4 separate regions of the Homo sapiens genome follow, and all the other regions are linked to region 3. Evidence: fine-mapped expression QTL. A gene starts in region 3. Each other region holds a variant in brackets. All regions are shown on one strand. Distances are from middle to middle.

Evidence for each region. PIP is the estimated chance that this variant, and not a neighbour inherited with it, causes the effect.
Region 1: its variant is fine-mapped to the expression of TGFBI in whole blood (INTERVAL, PIP above 0.99).
Region 2: its variant is fine-mapped to the expression of TGFBI in whole blood (INTERVAL, PIP above 0.99).
Region 4: its variant is fine-mapped to the expression of TGFBI in skeletal muscle (GTEx, PIP above 0.99).

What each region holds. Positions count from the first base shown.
Region 1 is chr5:135,996,179-136,001,848 of GRCh38, forward strand. No RefSeq gene overlaps it. Among named protein-coding and RNA genes, the nearest start is that of TGFBI, 30 kb to the right of the region's middle. RefSeq lists an enhancer at 5,188-5,670. The variant G/A (reference allele first, on the strand shown) is at 2,980.
Region 2 is chr5:136,060,339-136,065,953 of GRCh38, forward strand. TGFBI (transforming growth factor beta induced) reads left to right here. Exons shown (of 17, transcript NM_000358.3): 14 at 496-598; 15 at 1,162-1,241; 16 at 2,325-2,349; 17 at 2,848-3,480. The coding sequence ends at 2,888. Among named protein-coding and RNA genes, the nearest start is that of TGFBI, 34 kb to the left of the region's middle. RefSeq lists a silencer at 2,340-2,439. The variant T/C (reference allele first, on the strand shown) is at 2,843.
Region 3 is chr5:136,026,583-136,032,252 of GRCh38, forward strand. It overlaps TGFBI (transforming growth factor beta induced), which reads left to right and starts at 2,406. Exons shown (of 17, transcript NM_000358.3): 1 at 2,406-2,607. The coding sequence starts at 2,474. RefSeq lists an enhancer at 4,623-4,692.
Region 4 is chr5:136,003,833-136,009,502 of GRCh38, forward strand. No RefSeq gene overlaps it. Among named protein-coding and RNA genes, the nearest start is that of TGFBI, 22 kb to the right of the region's middle. The variant G/A (reference allele first, on the strand shown) is at 2,566.

The sequences.
Region 1 (5,670 bases), 30 kb before region 3:
TGGAGTGCTGGAGTCAGGGCAGTGCGCACAAGTGTTGGGCTGGGTGACTCCAGTGGAAAGTAGTGCTGATAATCATGCTTGGAATTCAGGGGGACGGAGGGCACTTGGGGTTTGGTCAAGAGGAGGGTCCACCCTGCAGCCATTGTACACACAACCCCCATGCCCCCATTAAGACTGCAGAGCTCTCCTCCCCTTGCCTTTCCTTGTGAGCACCCTCTCTGCCCCTTTCAGCCTCTGCTGCTGCTCATGCCTCGCCACTGAGCCCCACAGCAGCCAGCTGAGCTTTCCTGTTCTCTTCCCTCCTTTCCTGTTTCATTTCCGAGGCTCTTCCAAGCCCCCGGGCTTTTCACACAAACACTTTCTTTTCCTACCTCAGAACTTGGTTTTTGCCTCTGCACAGTCAGGGTTGCTAGCTGCTCGGGTATCATTTCTTTTCTACCAAAGAAGGGAATGTTTTCTTTTTATGGGGCTCTCTCCAGGTCTGGAGCCCTGCTGGCTTCTCCACAGCTTTAGGTAACCCACAAAATCCTCAGCATTCTGGCTGCTGCCCTGGCTGTGCCTGTCTCTCCGGGCAGTGTCTTGAGTGACAGTGGGAGGAATGGGTCATGCCTGACTAATCAAAAGCCACAGCAGGCAGCATTGCCTGGACTATGGTCCTCTGACACTTCATCCAGATGATGATGCCTTCATATTTGTTAGAAACTTCATGCCTTCTTCCCAGGACCCGGCTTCCCTAGAAGTTAATCAGGCTGGTGGCCAGTGGAGTGGCTGTGGATTCAGAGCAAAGCAGTGTGGCTGGTCCCAAAAGCTCTTTCTCTGGGCCATGGTGAGACCGCTGAAAGAGCTCCACCCCACCACACAGCATGGGGAGAGCTCACAGCCAGACTATCCTTGAACCCCCCAATCTAGGCCTTTCCGCCTGAATACATGGGTCCTTTTTGCCATCCTCTCTGTTCTTTTTCTGGGTTTTTCTGGCCAAGCAATCTCTCTTTAAGTCGGTTAACTTACCTTTTGAGGCATATCTTTGCTCTCAGCCTGGGAGCTCATCTGTCTCTGGGAGATGGCTCTACCTAAACAGAAGTCTGTAGATGTTTTCTTGGGCTCACCCTTCTCAAATCATGTTGAGAAATCATGAGACATGAGAAATCATGTCTCAAAGCATTTCCAACAAAGCTTTAGCTGACTCAGAATATACAAAGATTTTTTTCCAAGTCAACTTTATTGAGGCATAATTTATGTGTAATAAAATGTATATATTTTAAGTATACAATCTGATGAGTTGTGACAAACGTGTACATCCACATAGCCGCCACGACAATCAAGACACAGAACATCTCCATCACCCCAGAATGCAACGTTTGCCATTATCCCCCCAACCCCAGCCATGAGCAAACACCCACCTGCTTCCTGTCAATATAGATGAGTTTTGCTTTGTCTAGATTTTTATGTAAATTATCATACAGTAGATATCATTTATATCTTACACTCAGCCTACGATTTTGAGATTCACCCATGTTATAGCATGTTATGGATAATTTGTTCTTTTTTTTAGCTGAGCAGTATCTCATTGTATGGAAATAAGATAATTTGTTTCTCTCTTCACTCAGTGATAGACATTTGGGCTGTTTCCAGTTTGGTGTATTACAAGTACAAATGCCTTTTCTGATTCCTGATGTAGCACCTGGAGTAAACACGTCTGTTGCCCTTAGAGAGCTTAAAGTCTTGGCAAAAAGAGACAATTTAAATGATTTAATCCTCGTGGAATTTTATTATTGGATATGATTGGGATATAATCAACTGCAGGGAGGCTTGTAGTTGTGCTGGATGCTATGGAACCGGCAGAGAATGGAAGAGTACAGGGGGCCGGGGTCACTTCAGGGCATTTTATTTTATTGGGGAATGGCATGTGAAAGCTCCATCAAATGACGCTGGATGGAGCCCTGCCCTGGGAAGCAGGCAGAGGAAGACCACAGGGGGAGCAATCCTGGCAGGTGAGAGGCTGCAAAGATGCCGCCAGACCTGGAATAGAGAGTTTGTGTTCAGCAAGTGGGACAGAAATCACGAAAAGGCCTTGAATACTGCTCAAATTGCAGGACCTGCCACTGCCATGATGAGTGCCACTCTGAAGCCCTAAAAGATGACAAGGGAGAGTAGGAGAAGCAAGCCCAGAGGAGAAAGAAAGTGGAGAATGGTCCCCAGAGGAAGGGAGGCAAACAGGGAGCAACAGCTACGCAGGTGACTGCAATGTAAGAAGCCATCCAAGAATAGACAGTGTTTCAAAATGCTCAGGAAAAAGCAAGGTGCGGTCTTCTGGATGTGGCGGCAGAAAAACCCCAAGAGAAAGACATCATCAACATAAAAGCCTGGAAAAAATAGGGATCATAAAGATGCCAGTGTGACTGACAAACAAATTAGAGGTGTTTGTCTCTCGTACTCTCCCTTATCATCTTTTAGGGCTTCAGAGTGGCACTTCTCACTGGGGCCATCTGCAAGCTGTTCTTCGGCTCAGGAGACCATGGCCCTGCTACACAGTCTCCCATTTTCACATACTTGTTTTTATTGCTGGGTAACAAATTACCTTCAACTTAGTGGCTTAAAACAATACAGTGGCTTTTTTTGTTTAATCTCACAGTTTCCATGGGTCAGGAGTCTGGACATAGAGGAGATGGGTTCTCAGCTCACAATCTCATCAGGCTGAAATCAAAGTGTTAACCAGGGCTATGTTTTCATTTGGAGCTCAGGGTTCCCGGTAATCAGAATTCAGTTCCTGCAGTTGTAGGGCTGAGGTCCCATTTTCTAGCCAATCTAGGGGCTGCGCTCAGGTCCTAGAGGGCCGTGCAGGTCCCCTCCACGGGAAGTTCACAGCATGGCTGTTTACTTTCCTTCAGGCCAGCAGGAGAGTGCCTGAATTACATCTGCAAAGTCCCTTTTGCCATACAAAGTAACATGTCACTGGAGTGACAGCCAGTCTTATTTACG[G/A]GTCCCACTTACACTCAAAGGGAGGAGATGATGCCTGCACAGCAGGGACCAGGAATCTTAGGACCCATCTTAGAATTCTGCGCATTGCACATGGTTTTTCCTTTGACTTCCTATTTCTCCATCTAGAAAGGCAGGGGCTGTGGGCTAGGTCCTCTCAGAGATTCTGCTCTGCACCAATACTCTGAGTCTGTGTTCTCCTTCATTTTATGATTAGAGTCCATTTGGAAGCACTATGCCCAATCATCTCATCCAAAATGTGCCTTGAAGATAGTGATGGGGACAGGGGCAGAGATGACTGAGAACCACTGAAGGGGTCGCAGGCCAAGGGAGGGGCAGCTGAGTAACGGGCAGGGAGGCCTGCTCCTGGAATGGATGTTTGGTGAGTCATTAGGGCTGTTCACATACATTCTGTTTCTTCTTCTGAGCAGCGGAAGTGGGATTTTACTTCCCCATCCCCTTTGCAATTCAGTATAGGCATGTGCCTGACTGTGGCTGGTGAAATCTGAGCAGGGATGATGTCTATCATTCTGAGCTGAAGTTTTAAGAGCCCGTGTGTGTGTGTGTGTGTGTGTGTGTGTGTGAGTGTGTGTGTTGTCTCAACTCCCTTGTCCTCTGCTATAGTGACTAGCAGTTTGAGACGGTGGCTGCTTCATTATCCTGGGTCCCTGAAGGGATGCAGAACAGAACTCCAGCCAACCCGAAATGGACTTGTGGCACAGATGACAGAAATAAATCTTTGTTGTTTAAAGCCCCTAAGATTTAGGATTGTTTGTTACTGCAGCATCACCTAGCCTATCCTGGCTGGTACAAAAAGGACAGTATCACAGTTATTCTGGCTGCCACCTTCTCTTTTTCTCCGGAAACTCTTATCTGAGCCAGGTCTTTGATGCAGTGGCTTCTCAAAGATATAGCCATAGGGTTCAATCTTGATGAAAAGTGACTGTGTTGCTCTATAGTCATGTATCTTCCGTCATTCAAACTGAGCTACTCACCTGCTTGCTGAGAGAAGATGCTCTCCCACACCCTGGGCCCTCAGCCCTCATGATAAATAAATAATTTTTGTTTGAGAACAAATAAGAGTAATTAGCACATTCAGGGAAAACTGCCAGTCAAACCTGACTTGGACATGCTTTGATGTAGTTTACTTGTCATCTTGTTCTGAAAAATCTCAATTACCTGCAACCTGCCATTCCCGCTCTTTTCTTTTCCTACACCTCTAATTTGTTTGTCAGTCACACAGGCATCTTTATGATCCCTATTTTTTCCAGGCTTTTATGTTGATGATGTCTTTCTCTTGGGGTCTTTTCTGCCACCACATCCAGAAGACTGCACCTTGCTTTTTCCTGAGCATTTTGAAACTCTGTCCGTTCTTGGATGCTTCTCACATTGCAGTCACCTGTGTAACTGTTGCTCCCTGTTTGCCTCCCTTCCTCTGGGGACCATTCTCCACTTTCTTTCTTCTCTGGGCTTGCTTCTCCTACTCTCCCTTATCATCTTTTAGGGCTTCAGAGTGGCACTTCTCACTGGGGCCATCTGCAAGCTGTTCTTTGGCTCAGGAGACCATTGCCCCTGCTCCACAGTCTCCCGATGAGGGAGGATGCTGGCAGAGGTTGGCTGCCACTCAATTACCCAGACTCATTCCAAAGACCACGCAAATTTTTGTCCAGAGGGATGGTGACTGCCAGGGGGACCGATAGAGGGTACACAGGCATAGATCACCCTCAAGCAGAGACTACAACTGGTTAGGACTATGAGAAGAAATTATGCACAAGAGCGTGTCATAGTGTAAATTATGCCATGGTTTAAAGAGGAAATAAGACACAGAGAGAATCTGGCAATTATAATAATAATAATAACTAACAGTTAATGAGCACTTTCCATGACCCAAGCACAGCGTAGACACTTCCTATGGATTATCTCCTGCAGTCTTCATATTTCCTGTTGGGTAACACTAGTCTCATGCCCACAATTCGGATGAGGAAGCAGGGGCTCAGAAAGTTAAAGCAGTTCACCTAAGGTACACAGCAAGTAAGCAGAGAACTGGGATAGGGTCCCAGACAGCTGGCTTCAAAGTCCATGCTTCTACCCAGGCAAAGGGAAGAAAGAACTACACTGGCCAGAGGAGCTACCCCCTAGTTGCCAGTGTCCATGATGATTCCCTTGTGAGGAGGCCCCCCAGTCCAGATCCTTCCCATCCCACCTACCTGGAACTCGCTTCCAGCTGATTGGCTACAGGGCTCTGCCACATGATGCAAACTGGAAAAGGCCCTGTTTGAACTCTTCCCCTGCAAGAGTTCAGGCCCACAGGTTCTGGTGTGGGCTTGCTCAGCTGGAGGTAGCCTGAGGTGAGCTGGAGTTTACAGCCCTGGCTGCAGGCATCCTGCCGGGTTGGACTGCCTTGCTTTTCAGAGTAGGGGGAATTGAATTATTATTGCATCAACTCCTCCGACACTCTGAGAACTATGGCCTCCCTCATTCCTTCCTCTGTGGCTTTTCTCTGCCCATAAATGAAAAGCAGATTGCCTCACTGGTGCTGGATGCTCAGAGCAGAACCGCATCCTAGGTGTGGAAGAGCAGAAATGTTTCTCACCATCTGTTTCTCGTTGACTTCAGTGGGGCCATGCTTAGACAATGGGGCAGTATGCAGCCTGCATGGGGTGTGGCCCCACAGGGTGACCCCATGGCCTGCTG
Region 2 (5,615 bases), 34 kb after region 3:
CACTGAAGGTCTGTCAAGGGCAGGGACTGTTTCATTCACCAGAGTATCCCCAGTCTAACACAGGACTTGGCATATGAAAAGTGTTCAGTAGGCCGGGTGCAGTGGCTCATGCCTGTAATCCCAGCACTTTGGGAGGCCAAAGTGGGCGGATCATCTGAGGTCAGGAGTTCAAGTCCAGCCTGGCCAACGTGGTGAAACCACATCTCTACTAAAAATACAAAATTAGCTGGGCGTGGTGGCACATGCCTGTAATCACAGCTACTCTGGAGGCTGAGGCAGGAGAATCACTTGAACCCAGGAGGCGGAGGTTGCAGTGAGTCGAGATCATGCCACTGCACTCCAGCCTGGGCGACAAGATTGAAACTCCATCTCAAAAACAAAGAACAAGGAAAAAAACGAAAACTGTTCAGTAAACACTTGCTGAATGAATAAAATAAATATATAAATGTATAAATAAATGCTCTACTTTCAACCACTACTCTGTTTTTCTTTTAGAAAAACAATGTGGTGAGTGTCAACAAGGAGCCTGTTGCCGAGCCTGACATCATGGCCACAAATGGCGTGGTCCATGTCATCACCAATGTTCTGCAGCCTCCAGGTAAGTGTCGCATCCCCACTGACTCTGCAGCCAGTCCTTTTCTTCATGTGGCAGTTGGTGGAGAGAAGAAAAACTGTTCTAAACAATGATGAGAATAACATGTAATTGTGATAGTTAAACTGTGCCTATGTGACTGATTGCAGAGTGAATTGGGAGCTGTTGGTTTTGAATGCACCACACTAAGGAATGTGAGGACACATTGCTCTTTGCGGAGTTGCCCAGCTATATTAGCTCCCCTCGGACACAGCCCAGTTTTCTGTATTCGCGTGGATGCTGTCCGCGCGATTCCCAGCACTCCTCTTACAGCATCTCACCTCAGTGTATGTTCCTTGCCTCCAGTGCAGTTGAACCTCAGTCCTGCCTCTCCTCATGTGTGCATTCACCTTTCTTGGTGCTCTCTCCCCATGGGCCAAGTTCTACCATGAGTTATGAAACATTATGGAGAAAACATGTCTTTGGAAATGTGAGCCAGAAAGCCCACCAGTGCCCCTCAGTCACGGTTGTTATGAATGACATGCTAATGGTTTCACTCTGGTCAAACCTGCCTTTTCTTTCCTCTTCAGCCAACAGACCTCAGGAAAGAGGGGATGAACTTGCAGACTCTGCGCTTGAGATCTTCAAACAAGCATCAGCGTTTTCCAGGGTAAGATGCCTGCTAGGTTTGCGCCTAGCCTGAGCAGCCTCAGGTCCTCTGTTTGGGCCATAGAGGAGCCTCTCCAGCCCCTGTCTTCCTTGGCTGCTCCCCAGGGCTCTCTTAAAACTTCTCCCCACTCCCACTGAGGCATCCTCAGCCCCAGCCTGTGTCAAATTCAGAGTAAAGAACCAAGGCAACTCCCTGGCTTTCATGGGCCAAAGCGCAGGCTTTCACACCGAGGCCTCTGAGCCTCAGATCATGGGGAAGTCACTGCTGGAGAGAACAGACATAGCTCTGGAAGCCATCTGCCCAAGAGGGCAGCCCATCCCAAGTTCATCTTACAGTGGCCAGGCCTGCCCTGAGCCGGGGCCTCTGGGTCACTCTTCTGCTGTCCATGGCATTGCCCATCCTGGGTGAGGCTGGGGCTCTCCTGGGCACTGTATGTATTCTGGATACAGGGATACTGGGCTCGCTATGTGTGTGGAGCCATCCCTTCCTTGCCCCAGCCCCACCTCCCTCTCAAACCCTCTCTGGCTCTTTCTGAGCTTCCTTTCCTGCTCCCCAGCTTGCCCAGTGCTCAGTGCCCCACTTGGCTCTTTTGCTACTTCGGGTCAGGTGGAGCCTCTTGGGAATGTGAAGTGCCTTACAGAAAGATTGCACTTCAAGAGGAGAGGCTGCAGGGAGCCATCCTAAACCCAGAGGCCTGGAGCTTACTGTGTCACTTTACTTTTGTACACAGGGGTCTCCTTAGTGCCCTCGAGAAGGATTCTTGGCCCTGAGCTTCTACTCCTGAGGCCACCTCTGTGCAGCCCCAGCTCCCTCAACTCTAGGCTGTAGTCTCAGTGGGAAAGCCTGGCTTGGGGGTCTCCTAGGAATGTCCACCTGAAGGCACACTTGATAGGGGCTTGCACAACTTATGTCTGCCAAGGCCACCTGAGGAACTCCCTGGTGCCTATAAGTTCCACCTTCCCCTTCCTCTTCCTCGCCCCAGCATTTTTTCTGAGTAGGGGTGGCAATGGGCAAAGCCATTGTCATAAGCAGTTGCAGGTATAACTTTCACTAGAAAACCTGACACCTTGTGTTTTCTTTCAGGCTTCCCAGAGGTCTGTGCGACTAGGTGAGTCTGGTCTGGGTTTGAAGTCATTGCAGACCTGTTTAGGCCTTACCCCCAAGCAAGCCCAAGCCTGCCATCTGCTGTATATAGATAAGAACATCATGGTGCAGTAAAAGAAGCCTGGCCTTTGGAGTCAGAACAGCAGGGTGACTTGGGGTCAGACCCAGAGCACCCCATTTCCTTCTCTGTAAGATGAGGATAATAAGAGTAACAACCTTTTAGGGTTAAGGTGAGTTTTCAGCTTAGGAAGTCTGGGAATATTGCAAAGGGCTTGGCAGGAACCCATGGTGAGGATCTAGTTCCAAGTTGATAGGTACAGAAAACCAGAACATCGGGCCTTGAGTAAAGAGTGAAGTTTCACAAACCACAAAGCACCTGCTATGTGCAGGAGAGCATGGCAGAAGGAGGCTGCTTGGCCCTGGTCCTTGAGATTCTGACAGTGTCCTAGACAGACATGGGGAGATCTGCACCTATTTGACGTTACCAACTTCTCTTT[T/C]TCAGCCCCTGTCTATCAAAAGTTATTAGAGAGGATGAAGCATTAGCTTGAAGCACTACAGGAGGAATGCACCACGGCAGCTCTCCGCCAATTTCTCTCAGATTTCCACAGAGACTGTTTGAATGTTTTCAAAACCAAGTATCACACTTTAATGTACATGGGCCGCACCATAATGAGATGTGAGCCTTGTGCATGTGGGGGAGGAGGGAGAGAGATGTACTTTTTAAATCATGTTCCCCCTAAACATGGCTGTTAACCCACTGCATGCAGAAACTTGGATGTCACTGCCTGACATTCACTTCCAGAGAGGACCTATCCCAAATGTGGAATTGACTGCCTATGCCAAGTCCCTGGAAAAGGAGCTTCAGTATTGTGGGGCTCATAAAACATGAATCAAGCAATCCAGCCTCATGGGAAGTCCTGGCACAGTTTTTGTAAAGCCCTTGCACAGCTGGAGAAATGGCATCATTATAAGCTATGAGTTGAAATGTTCTGTCAAATGTGTCTCACATCTACACGTGGCTTGGAGGCTTTTATGGGGCCCTGTCCAGGTAGAAAAGAAATGGTATGTAGAGCTTAGATTTCCCTATTGTGACAGAGCCATGGTGTGTTTGTAATAATAAAACCAAAGAAACATACGTCCTGTGTGCATGGTACAGTGTGCTGACCTGAGGCCGTCATGCTCCTCCACACCTCAATTCTGCTCTGGAGAAGCTCAGAAAGGAGCCCCGAGGGATGGTTTTGGGGAGATTCCAGCAGCCAGCCCTCAGACAGCCAGACAGCTCATGGGGGTTTGAGCCTGTCTTTGCCAAACAGGTTTTTATTTCACCCTCCTCCGGTCCTGGGGTTTCAAGTTTTCAGTGTTGCCTTCACCCCGCACTTTATTCCTCTTATTACTTGGAAGTACCTTCCCTCCAGCATGGTGATCCCCTGCCTGTGTGCTGGACTTTTGAGTCCTCAGCACCAACCTGTGAAGTGGTTGCCAGCATAATCCCATTATGCAGATGAGGAGACCAAGGCCCAGGGAAGGGAGAACCACCAGCAGCACGTAAAATAGCTGAGCTGGGACTGGAACTCACACCTCCTGACTCTCAGTGACCACCACTGACAACAGCATAAGTCCAGGTTTTCCAGGCCCATCCCCTCTGTGCCAACCCACATTCAGATTCCTTCCCCGGCTCCCGTAATCTCTGGCATCTAGAATATCCTCAGGACTCTGAGAGGTGATATCATGTGGTTGTGGTGCCATTGCCCCCTACCTGTGTGGCCTGGGGCCAGTCATGTGACCTCCCAGGGTCTCCTCTTCTGTAATAGGGAGATGACCGTCACATCTACTTCATGGGTCCATCGTGAGGATGAAATGAGATGATCTATATAAAATGCTTGGTACAACATTAGGTGGCCTTATTTTTATCCTGCCGTCTGGGACTGCTCAGGATCAATGCGCCAGAGAGCCTTTATTTGTGTCTTTCCCACAGGTGGGCTGGCCCACTTTCCTAGAGAATGGGACAGACCTCCTTCCCACCCACACCCATCTCTGCCAAGGCTGATTCACTCCAGCAGGCGGAGCTCATTTCACTTCATGGAACCAATGACCCAAAGATATATCCCCAGCACTACTGCTGGTCAGTCCACTGCTGCTGGGAATACAGCAATGGTAGTGGCAGACAGAGGCCCTCTCTTAAATAGCTTCCAGTCTGAGGAAAGAGAGATATGACATCAATCCATTAAAATCATTCATCCATTGGTTCCACAAATATTTGTTGAGGGCTACCTATGTGCACCCCCATGTTAGACCCTGGGGAATAGACATGTCATTCTCATGAGGCTTCTCTACTGATGGGGGGGAAGAGAATTGTCAACCAGATAATGGCACTACAGCCTGTGTGTTCTTAGTGACTCTGAGGATAGCACTGTGGTTCTGTGACAGATAATGAAGGATTTGGAAGCAGGAATGCCCAGGAGCTCCCAGAAGTGGGAAGAGATGAGAGGAATGGAAGGAACTTACCTGAAGGTGAAGGCATCAGGCTAGGGGACCAAGGGAGAAGGTGTCCTGAGAGGTAAGGCTTAACCTTGGGTGTGAATTCAGTTCCCGTCACTCTCCCATAGCTCTGTCCTGCTGTTCCCACCTCCCCTGCAGCCATGCGGGCTTGGGCGGCTAGTGAGGGCCTTGCTCATGCTGGGTATCCTATGCTATGCTTCACTTTGAGCACCTAAAATACACACACTGCACTTTACCAAGATGACCTCGGAAACCAAAGAGGTGATCAGCATAAGTTTTAAAGACCCTTAAATTTAAAGTAAAAATCACTACAGGATCCATTATAAATGCCAAACACTAAGATGTGTGTTTCCAGTTCTCCCCTTCATTTGTCCCTGCCACTCCCTGCCCTGACTTTGCCCCACCCCCTAGTAATGTGGGCTCCACTCTATGCTCCAAACTCTCCCTGGAGAGAAATCCTCCCTGTGGTTGAGGACAAGGCGCAGCCTTCCCCTCCCACCAAAGAAGGTCAGATTCCCTTTTTTGGTTCCTAACCATCCATACCCCTTCTTTTCTCATGAAGACTCGGGCTAAGCATTCATTAGGGCTGCCATCTGGAGGATGGACCCTTAGAGCTGAGGGGCCAGCACTGTGTGTTTCCAGGGGTGGGTGATTTTGGGGAGGGAGGTGTGCCTCACCCCATCAGAAGGCCAGAGGGTAGCCCAAGCTAGAAGGAGGTTGCCCAGGCCTTGCCTGAGCCCTGACCACTGAGCCCCAACCAAGGAAATGGAA
Region 3 (5,670 bases):
CCTCCTCCTCTCTTCCAACACCTGCTCCCAAGGAAGCTCATCCAGTGCATGACTTTAGCTACCACCTGCTCGTAGTGGTGACTCAAATCTGCATCTCCAATCCTCATACCTATCCTGAGCTCAAGACCTTTGAATATAGCTCCCTCCTGTCCATCCCTCCTGGAAATGCAGGTGGCTTGTTCACACATAATGTGAACACAAATGGAGCACTCTCCTCACACACCCAAATGTGCACCTTCACCAGCGTGCCCAGCACAGGCATCCCTTCCTGCCAGCTATGAGCCTCGAGGTTAGCTCTACTCCCCCTCCCTAACCCTGCATGCCCAAGGGGTTTCCAAGTCTAATCAATGCTACCACTAAAATCTCCCATACACCTGTTCCCTCCTCTCCACTAGCTTGATCACTCCCCATGCAGGCCCTCAGTTGCTTTATGCTCTCAGTAGGCCCTCCTCCAGTGCCCACACTCTCTCCCTTCTCCTTCCCACCTTCTTTCTACCAGAGTTCTAACCTCTCCAAGCCCCGCTTGTCTTTTTCTTTCCCTGGCTGCCATCCTAACTCGCCCCTTCCCTTCTCAGACAAGCTTCTACATGCTACTCATCTCTCCATCAAACCACCATATTCGGGCTTTGGCCATCTGCTCTCCACAGCCAAGTCCCCAGTGGCCTCTCTGCTTCTGACACAGTGAAAGCCATTCAGATCTGTCTTGTTGGCAGCATTCCTCACTTTGAGCAGCGCCCTCCTACTAGGATACCCCTCCTTGACTACAACCCCACATTCTCTACTTCCTGGGCTCTTCTGTCACTGGAGGATGACTCCCAGGTGTGAATCTTCATCCCGCGTCCCTCACTCAAGCCCCCGATCCTCATATCCAGCTTTATCCTCATGGGATGCTTCACCAGGATGAGTCATAAGCACCTCAGACTCAGGGTGTCCCAAACCACTCATCTACCTGGCAAGCCTGCACTCTGCATGTGCCTCATTCTGAACATGGCACCATCACCTGCTGCAATGTCCAGACCACAAACACCCTACAATATCCTTGACTCTCCTTTCTCCCCTTCTCCCTGTATACAGACTCCAAATTCTATTGAGACTATTACCTCCTACACCCCTCACATTTGCCCAGCCTTCCCCATCTCTGCCTCTACCACCATAGTTCAAGCTCTCCCATGGTCCCTTCCTGGTTACCTGTTCTTCTTGCCTCCTTAAGCCTCTCATGACACTGGCCATGTCACTTGCCTCCACCCATCACCCGCTAGGCTCTTAGCTGGAGTCTGGGCCCTGCTACCTTCCTCCCCTTCTTCCCTACCCTTGACTCCACCTCCCTGTGCTTCAGCCAACCAGATAACTTGAGTTTCGTGAATGCATGCCTCAGTTTACCTGATTAACTCATTTTCATCTTTCAGGCCTCAGAGCAGGTATCACCCTGTCAGGGCCAGGTGCCTCTTCTTAGCTCCCAAAGCCCCAGCTACTCTTCATGGAACATCATTGGCTTGGGCTACGGATCTTCCCAAATTGGAGCTTTTTCACAAAGGGCTTAGGTCTCACTCATTCTATTAATCCATCTGTGTCTCCCCAGGGCTAGCAGTGCCAAGTAACTGACAGGTGATTAATAGATGCTTGGGTAAGTATCACCTCTTTACCATGTGACAATTTGTTTACCTGCCTTGAGCTCCTCCAGGGCAGGACTCTTGCCTTTGCAGAATCTATCTGGCAGGTACTGTTGCAGAGATGTTTACTGAAGAAGGGAATGAATTAGTACCAAGGTGAGGACCCCACCCTTCCCCACGGGCTCCAAAAGCAGCTTAGAGCCCAACAAAACCTGCCCCACATTTTTGGCGTTTCTGTGGATCACACGATTTACTCATCTGTCTTTCAATGAGCATGACAGGTGGGGTGGGGGTGGAGGGATTAGAGATTGAGGAGCTGGGGAGGGTGGTCAGCTCCTGGGGTGCAGAAACAAGTCTGATGGGCCATGGTGTTCTGGGAATCAGCACTGCCTCCCCTCACCCCTCCCTGCAGTGTTTTGTAGCCTCAAGATCAGTGAGGGAATCTTCGGGCCCCCAGCATGCAGGACCGAAGCCCCCGAGACAGCTGTCCCTCAGTCCCAAGGTCCCCATTTGGAAGCAGCCACAGGAGGCCTAAGGGACCTATACCCTTGGTTTGAGGAAGACTGTGGCGAGGGAGAGAGGGAGGGAGGGCTGGCAGTGAGGGCAAGGGCTGGGAAAACTGAGCACGGGCACAGTGCGGGAGCGGGTGGGTGCCCAGGGCAGCCAGGGGCGCACGGGTTGGGAGGCGCCAGGCGGCCCGCCCTCCTTGCACGGGCCGGCCCAGCTTCCCCGCCCCTGGCGTCCGCTCCCTCCCGCTCGCAGCTTACTTAACCTGGCCCGGGCGGCGGAGGCGCTCTCACTTCCCTGGAGCCGCCCGCTTGCCCGTCGGTCGCTAGCTCGCTCGGTGCGCGTCGTCCCGCTCCATGGCGCTCTTCGTGCGGCTGCTGGCTCTCGCCCTGGCTCTGGCCCTGGGCCCCGCCGCGACCCTGGCGGGTCCCGCCAAGTCGCCCTACCAGCTGGTGCTGCAGCACAGCAGGCTCCGGGGCCGCCAGCACGGGTAAGCCGAGCCGCCTGGCCAGGGGCTGCGGAAGGTCAGGTAGTCGGGGCTCGGAGCGCAAGCCGCTGGGGGCATTGAACTGGGCTGGGGGCGCAGGGGACAAAGCCCGAACTAAAAACCTTGCAGCATGGAGCGCTCGGACACCAGCCCTGCACGCGGTGGAAGGAGAGAGGGAGGGAGGTGGAGGACCATGGAGGGAAAGCGGGAGGCCGCCGCTTTGTAGAAGGGAGTGGGGAAGTGGACCAGAGACTTTCGACGCAGGCCAAGAGCCTGAGACGGACAGCGCTTTCAGCTTCTCCTCCCAGCCACTGCAGAAAGGGGGAAATGGCAACTCTTTGGCCATAATCACCGTGGGAGGGTGCCAAGGGCAAAGCCCACCCAGCAGTACACCTATTCCAACCCAGCCAGGCCCCCGGCCAGCGACTCCAGACAAGAACCTGGGCCACACACGGTGGCAGCATCTAAGGTGCCCCAGGCTCCTGTGCTCCTGGCCAGGCCCTGCACTCAGACACTGCTGGCACCCGACACTGCTCTCTGGGTACAGCAAGGGCAATGTGGCACTTCTTGTCCTGCCCGATGAAGAGCAGGAGAATGCACTGGGCCCTCACACACACTGTTCAAATGGGGAAACTGAGTCCTGAGTGGTTCCACTTTCCCACAGTCCTGAAGTGTGCACTGGAGCCAGGATTGGAGTCTGTCTTAAAGTAATAGCTGGGTTTGTAAATGTAGGACACTATCATTGCAGGAATTCCTTTGAGACCCTGAAGATGTGTTGGCTTTAGGAGACAAACTCAAGCAGAAGGTCTGGTCTGATAGTGGCCCTAATACTGACCCAGGCAGAGGCAGGCAACATTTCTACCTCAAAAACCAGGCCATACCTGCGTCACAAATACCCAGGCTTTGCTGCAGCTTCCAGCCTACCTGGTTGCACCAACTTCTTTTTCATAACTAGGTAAAACTATATATGAGTAGAATCTTGTAGTGACTCCTCAGAGGAAGCCTAAATACCATCGGGGTCTGGCGTTCACACCCACAAGCAATGCCCAAACCTCCAAGAGACTGGGCAGATCTGTGCTCAAATCAAAACTCATTGTTGGGGGTGATAGAGTTGACTTCACAGGCCCTGAAAGTCTTGGCTCCTTGCACTAGGAGTGCTCTGGGTACGGGTACAGGCTGCCCCTTGTAGGGCATAGTTGCTCTTGTTTCCTCTACTTGTGGCTTTATGGTCTAGGCCTTTCAGGAGTTTGGGGCTCTGGCGGAGAGGGCCTGCTGGGAGCACATCTGGCCACCCTGCAGAGTGAAATCAAACCAGGCCTGGCTGCAACCTCAACACCCTCCTGGAAAGAGGAGAATACTGGGGATATCCTGGGGTCTTTCTGGAAGTGGGAGAATCAGCTTTGACTTGGGCAGTGTGCAGAATAGAGTGAGGGGGGATGTCAGAAAGATGAGAGGGATATGAGGCCTCAACATCAAAATGCAAGCACCTGGCATTTTTATTATCTCTGCCCACCTCTCCGTTGGTCTCTCTGCCTTTCCTGCCAATGAATTGTGTTATGTTTGGGTGCCTCAATTTGCCTAGGAGGGTTCTATTTCTTCTGTATCTTCGCCACTAAGTCAGGAGAAGATCCTTATAGCATGCCCTGCAACAGTGTCACCTGTAAGGGCATCTCTCTGCACAGCCACAGTGAAGGATCCTCAAAGGTATTGAGGGCTTTCCATCAAGAGCCATCTTTACAGCAAACCTCTTTCCCTTCAGAGCCCAGAAGAGTGCTGACCAGCTGGAAAACAGGGTTTTTTTCTTAAATGCAGATGCTCTTGATTATGAGTTCCAGATATTAGATCAACTTCCCCACCATACCCCTGCAGGCAAAGCCTCTTAATTAGCTTCCTGCAGCACAGCTGGAAAGGCCTATTGTAATCTGTGATGGGCAGAGTAATCTAAGAAGTCACAGGAGCACCCCTGTCCCAGTAGAATCTGGATGCGCAGGCACATGAACCATGGCAAAATGGTTGCAGGCACAGTTGTATTTACTCTGATCTAACTGTCCCTGTTAATGCCACAGGGCTGCCTGGCCTGGCACACAGGGCTGTGGCGCCTTGTGCAAATGGATAACGTTGTTCTAGCTCCAGCCTTTCATTCAAAGTGAAAACTGTTAGAAAGGGAAGGAAAACTTTGCTATTTTAAGGAATTGTAGCGTGCTGCCTGATATGAAGGAAGAAATAACAGCTGTGCCTTGCTTGTGCGCAGCACTCGATTGCCGCTTTTGCTTTCGACCTCACCACAACACAGTGAGATCTACTGTTCATGTTCCCATTTTACAGGAGGTGAAACTGCAGCTTAGTGAGGTAGAGAGTGACTTAGTTCAGACACAGAATGCTGTTGGGAGAGTAATAACTATGATATGGTCTCTTGACTCCCAGCTATATCTGTGTTGCTATAGGGAAGGGGAAAAATAATACTGAAAGAGAAGTAAAAATACAATCACACTTCCAAACATCAACCACCAAAAACTGAACTGAATTTCCTGAAGCACTTGGTTTTCAAATCTAAGCTGAACATCAATGCTGTTATTCTTGAGGCCCAGAAGCAACTTGCTCATTTCAATTAAGCTTCAGCATGAACTTCCTATGTACACAGCCCACCCACACTCCCCGATGTGAGAAGGAGAGGGTCACAGCCGCCCCCAGCCTCTGCTGCTGCCACAAGGACAGCAGCAGTGGAAACATTCAGCAAAGGAATGTTGGAGCCACATCCACAAGAGACTCACTGAAGATTCGCCAAACGCCTACGGAAAGTGGCAGGGAATTCATTGACAGTAATTGTTTCCTGCTTGATCAGATTGAAGAGCTTCTGGGATTCTGTAACAATAAATAGGACCGGGGGCTGGAGTATGGCCAGCAAGGACTCTTCAGGGGTTATTCAGGGACTGTCTAACCTGTGAATCCTAGGCAGCAAACAGAAACCAGGTATTCAGAAATCTGGAGGATTTGGTCAGGCCCAGCTAGGACTAGGGAGGCATGGGCCTCTGCTGGCTGTGGTCCCTTCTCCAGCCTTCACTTCTC
Region 4 (5,670 bases), 23 kb before region 3:
TGAATTTGGGATCTATGCTCCATAAAAGAAGAGCTGCATATCCAGAATTCCCTTTTTGTTGTTGTTGTTTTTTGTTTTCGTTTTTGTTTTTTTGAGACAGAGTCTCGCTCTGTTGCCCAGGCTGGAGCACAGTGGCGTGATCTCGGCTCACTGCAAGCTCTGCCTCCCGGGTTCACGCCATTCTCCTGCCTCAGCGTCCCAAGTAGCTGGGACTACAGGTGCCCGCCACCAGGCCAGGCTAATTTTTTTTTGTATTTTTAGTAGAGATGGGGTTTCACGGTGTTAGCCAGGATGGTCTCGATCTTGTGACCTGGTGATCCACCTGCCTCAGCCTCCCAAAGTGCTGGGATTACAGGCGTGAGCCACTGCGCCCGGCCTGTGTTCTTCAAGTTTATTACCTCAGTCACTAGTATAAGTCTATTTCAAGTCCTTGAATGTCTAAGAATGTCTGTCTGTTGCCTTCATAAGGCTGCAAAATTACTGGATCCTAACTTTCTTCCTTCAAAACTTTCTAAAGCCTGCTCTATACAGGGTGGCAAAGGACAAGTCTGAAGCCAACCAATTTTGTAAACTTTGAAAGAGGTATTTTTTTTCCCTCAATGCTCATGACATGAAAACAAATTAGTCTTATAATTCAAATATGTTGCTAGAATGTGTTTTAGCCCCTGTGACACAGTGAGGCCTCTCTGTCAGGGATCCCCTAGGCCACAGGTCCATCGCTGTTTGGAAACCCACTAAAATGACTCACAAAACTCAGCTTAAAGTGTACTCAGCTTAAAGTGTACTCATAGCCAAGATTTATTACAGCAGTGTTGTAAGGATATATGAGTGGCTCATGAAGGGAAAAGGCACAGGCAGTCTGGAGGAATTCATGTGCAGGTTTCCTCATGCTCTCTCTCACCCATTAGGAGTCACGCACAGCTTACTCTTCACCAGTGAGAAAAATGAAACAACGTATGCATGATGTATCTGTCTAGGGAAGCCCATCAGAGACCCATTACACAAGTTTTTTTTACTGGGGTCTGATCATGATCATGTAGGTCCTTCTGTCTAGCATGAACTAAAATTCCAAGAGAGCAGGTGTTTAGTAGCAGGCCTTTCTAAGTATTGCAGTCTTCAGGCCTGCTCGGTGAACTCTTTTCTAGACAGCCCCCTTTAAATTTATTTTTTTTAGAATGCTATGGGCCATTTCGATTTGCATACTAAGGGCTGTTTTCTCTAATGATATCTTTGATTATTGCTTTCTTCCCACTTGAGTGGGTTTCTTTCTTCAGAAGTTCTGTAATTCTTGGATATAGCAGGACAGAGAAGGAGGACCGAATCATCCTGTCCTTCCTCATCATTTTCATCATTTTGCTCTTCTCCTTTGATCTCATTCTTGCCCTCCACATTACTGATTCACTTTTCTATGGTGTCAGCTCTGCTCCTTGTTGACTTAATTTTTTTTTTCAGATATTGCATTAAAAACATTTTTAATTGCAAACCTGAGTACTTTTTCAGAAGTTTCATGATTTTCTCCCCCCAGTCCCCACCCCTCCACCCCTCCTCAAATAGTGAAAGGTCTATCTAGACCCACTGATTTATAAAAGAGAAGTTTTAGGGGTTTGTACTTGTCACTGCCCTTGACATCTTGGGTGTCTATCAAAAGCCTTGTTAAATAAACAGTTGAGCAGCCGATTGTGGTGTGCAGCTTCTAGTGCTGTTCTTAGTGACCACACGTTTTTGTTTACTGAACGTCTGTTAAACTGAAATCCATCTTCTTCTACCCCACCATGTAGCTCCTTGACATGATACAGAAATGGAATGTGTAGAAAGGGCAGTGCCCTGGCATGCCTCCCTCCAACGTTGCCATCGTGGGCTGTGGCTGCAGTGCCGTGCCCATGGGACTCTCCTCCTGGCTACTGTGGAACCCATAGTTCCTCCCTGTGCATCTCCAAGGCCATGAGGAGGGGGTCCCGTGCAGCCAGGGGGCCCCCCGGGAAAGCACCCGAGTTTTGCATGGCACAGCCCTGTGTTCCTGGTTATAGGGGCAGGTTCCCTGGCACACAGTGTGGGTGGCCCTGAAATGAGATTTTCAATCCAGCTTCTTGCCTGGCCTTAGGTTGAATCTTGATCTTAACTCACAGAATAACGTTTTTACTTTTTTCAACATCATCTTGGATATTTTCAGGAGAAGTTGGGAGCAGCTTGGTAGGAGGCTATTAACCAAGAATCATTTAAAAACTAAAGTCTTGAGGAAAATTCTAACTAAGGGGCCACGGGGGATCACAAAGAATAAAATGCTATAAGCAACCGAGGGAGTAGTCTCATTAGGGCGCTAAGACAGACACACGTATCATAGAAAATAACTAACAATACCAGACGGTGTATCACGAGGGTGCCCTGGGAGCGTGGTGGGCCGGGAATCAGGAACACCGGCTCCCCTTTCGTGACTCCAATACGGACTTGCTGTGTAACCTCAGATGAGGCAGAGCTCCCTTCTGGAACTCTCTTGCCTTGTTTACAAATGAGGGGATTGGTCTAGTTTCCAGTGTGCCTCCAGCTCCAACATTCATCATCTTTCTC[G/A]GCTGCTGTGATTCAGTGGGAACACTGCAGAAATGAGGGACTGGCTGACCTTGAGCTGAATGGTCAGCTCCAGGGGCCAAAGGAACAGAAACAGCAGATACTTCCCAGTGTCCCGCCTTTGTGCCAGGGAGAATCTCGTGTGCCCCCAGAGGGCTGCTGTCTCTTATGCCCCATTCCCACTTCTCCAGCTTGTCTCTGTTCGATTTCCTCAGAGGAGCTGGCCCATACATTGTATAACTTTTCACTTTACAAACATTTGATCTACTCAAGTCATCTTGCCTCTGTGTATGTGTGCACCTAATATAGCAGAAAATGGATTTCAGGCTTCCTTTTAAAAGAAGTCAATTATCCCTCTTATGACTGATTCATAATTTAGCCATAAGGAGCTGGACGTTACTTCATTCTGACAATGAGCCATGATCCCTTTGTTAGGCCAAGTTTAGACAAGGAATCTAAGGCACAAGTGAGTAACTCCTGATGCATCAGGGTGTGCAGAGACTCCTTGAGTTCCAGAGACCTTGAGGCCTAGTCTGGAGCCTCCAAGTGGATTTTTTTCTCTTCTGTTCAGAATTCCACATTCTCTACTGTCTGACATGTAGAGGTGAGTCAGCCTCATGGTAAAGAGCAGAGTGGCACCCTGCTGTTTGGCACGGCTGGTCTTAGGTGTGAACCCCCTTGGGGCAATAAAAGGAAGACCTGGGACCTCAGGGACTCCTGTACTCTGTCCCTCCACACATGGGCACGGCTGGCTGCCTGTCGTCCCGAGTTCTCTAAAGGCAGGAGCCCCCCGATACCCTCTACTCTGTCCCAAGACATCTCCTTGCCGCAACCCAGGACAGGAGGGGCAGTTAGCTAACTTAGCAGATTATAAAATAGCGCCAAGACCAGATATTCTACTTGATGCAAAATGCACTTGAGAGGCGTAAATAATTTAATTGGCTGTTGTCACGCAAACAGGATAATCACAAGTTCTCCCAAGTACTGGTTGTTCCAGCTCCCTCTCCTTTCAGGACAAATTGCTCACACTTATCCCACTCACATATACCAATACTTTAGGGAGAAAGAAGGGCAGGGAGAACTGCTTTCATAATTCCCAACTGTGAGGTGTTGCAAGAGGGGAACGTGTACAGGTCCCAAAGGATCTTTCTCTGTGGCTTTCTGGGACTTCACTGCCTGAACTCTTGTACCCAACAAAAAGATCACATTCTTCTTTGTTTCCCCAGTACCAGTGCTAGTGCACAGCCTGACCATAGCATTTTCCACATTGTCTGGCATTTGCCTAGTGTCTATCTTTCCCTGGGTCTGAACTTCCAAAGGTTAAGAACCAGGGCTCATTATCATCTTGGACAGAACCTAAGCAGAGTGGATGCTCAGCAGTGATTTGTTGAACCAAATAAATAAGTCAGCCCAAGGCTTTGCTAAAGAGCTGAAAGGATGATATTCCTGAGAAGACAAGTCAACAAACGTAGCCTGTGTGCATTCAGTTTACATAATTGATAAATATTTATTGAGCATTTACTGTGTCAGGCATTCGTCTAGATACTGGGGATATAGCAGTGAACAACACCAGTGAGATTCCTACCCACAAGAGTTTAAATGTAGGGGGAGACAGACAATAAACACCTAACAAAACAAATCAAATAGTAGCAGTCATTAAGAGACTTAAGATAATAGAGAGTGATCGGGATCAGGAAAGACCTTTCTGTCTGCTTTAAAGTGAGATCTGAATAATGAAAAGGGGAGAGAGCACTGCAGATGGAGGAGATAGCTAGTGCAAAGGCCCAGAGGTGGAACTAAACTTTCTTGTTAAAGAAACAGGAATCCAGAGTGGCTGAAGAGCACAGAGTGGGAGTGGAGAGTGGGGACTGGGGAGTGGAGGGCTGAAGTGTAGGCTAGGGCCAGATCACACGGGTTACTCTGACTGCATTGGGGAACCACTAAGGTACTTTGAGCTGGGCAGAGGAGGGTGGGACAAATCTGTTCATGGAGGCATTTTGAAAAGACCTTTTGGTAAAACCAGGGTCCCATCCTTCATGTACAGGATGTACCTAATACATCCACTCTTGTCGTTTTCCAGGAGGCAGAGGAACCTCGCCTGCTTCACCATCTGGTGCATGTTTGGACACATGGGGAGAGGTACTTCCTTGGCTGTGGGGCAGGGAGGAACAGAGTGGCTCCCATGAGGATAGAAGACACAAATTTGGTCTTGAAAGCGTTGAATTGTTCTTCATTGGCCAGGGCTCTTTTAGTTGCAAGTGACAGAGGCATAATACAAACTAGCTAAAGTCAGAAAAAGAATTTGTTGGCTATCAAAACTGGTCGTTCCCAGGGCACAACTGGCATGGAGGGCTCAGTGTTGGCAGGATTGTCTCTGTCACTTGGTCTTTCCCACTCTGCTTCTCTGTTTCTGTAGATGTTATTCTCTTTTAGGAGGGCTTCCTCCCAAATATCTTTAGACACAGGAAGTGGCATCTCTGTCCTGGGCTCCATGCCTCTGGGGACCCTGTGCTTTGGGGTAACTTCCTTGAAATTTTCTAAGCCCCTTGGATGCCTGGGACCAGCTGGAGCCATCATTGACAGCGAGGCAGGGTGCCCCAAACCTAGACCAGGACTCATATGGGCCCTGGTCCTCATGTCTCCCCAGTGGGACATCTGACTCTCTTTCACCTATGCTGGGTCAACCAGATATTCTGAGGAATTTTAGGAATCACATCCATGGGATTATCGAGGGACCCTGGGGCCAGGCCCCAGTTCCAGAAAGATGGTTTGGTGAATAGATCACTCTCATGAGGCAGTGTATTTCTTTCAGAGGATCCCATGAGATTGGGCCTCAAGAATGGTGCTGACAAGCTGATTTGGAATCCTCTTACTTCCATCTGATCTGAGTTCAGAGCTCTAGGCTATACTCGCCCTTGGGCTTCTACTGAGTGTGAAGGCCCAAGTGCCAGTCAATCCTGTTCATTCATGTTCTGATTATGGGGCACCAGAGGGTGGTGGAGGTGGTGGCCGGAGTCCTTTATCCTGTGTGCTTCCTGCTGCTGCAGCCAGGTAACCTCCCACACTGCTCCACAGGTCAGGATCTATACCATGTGGGCTGTGCCTGTT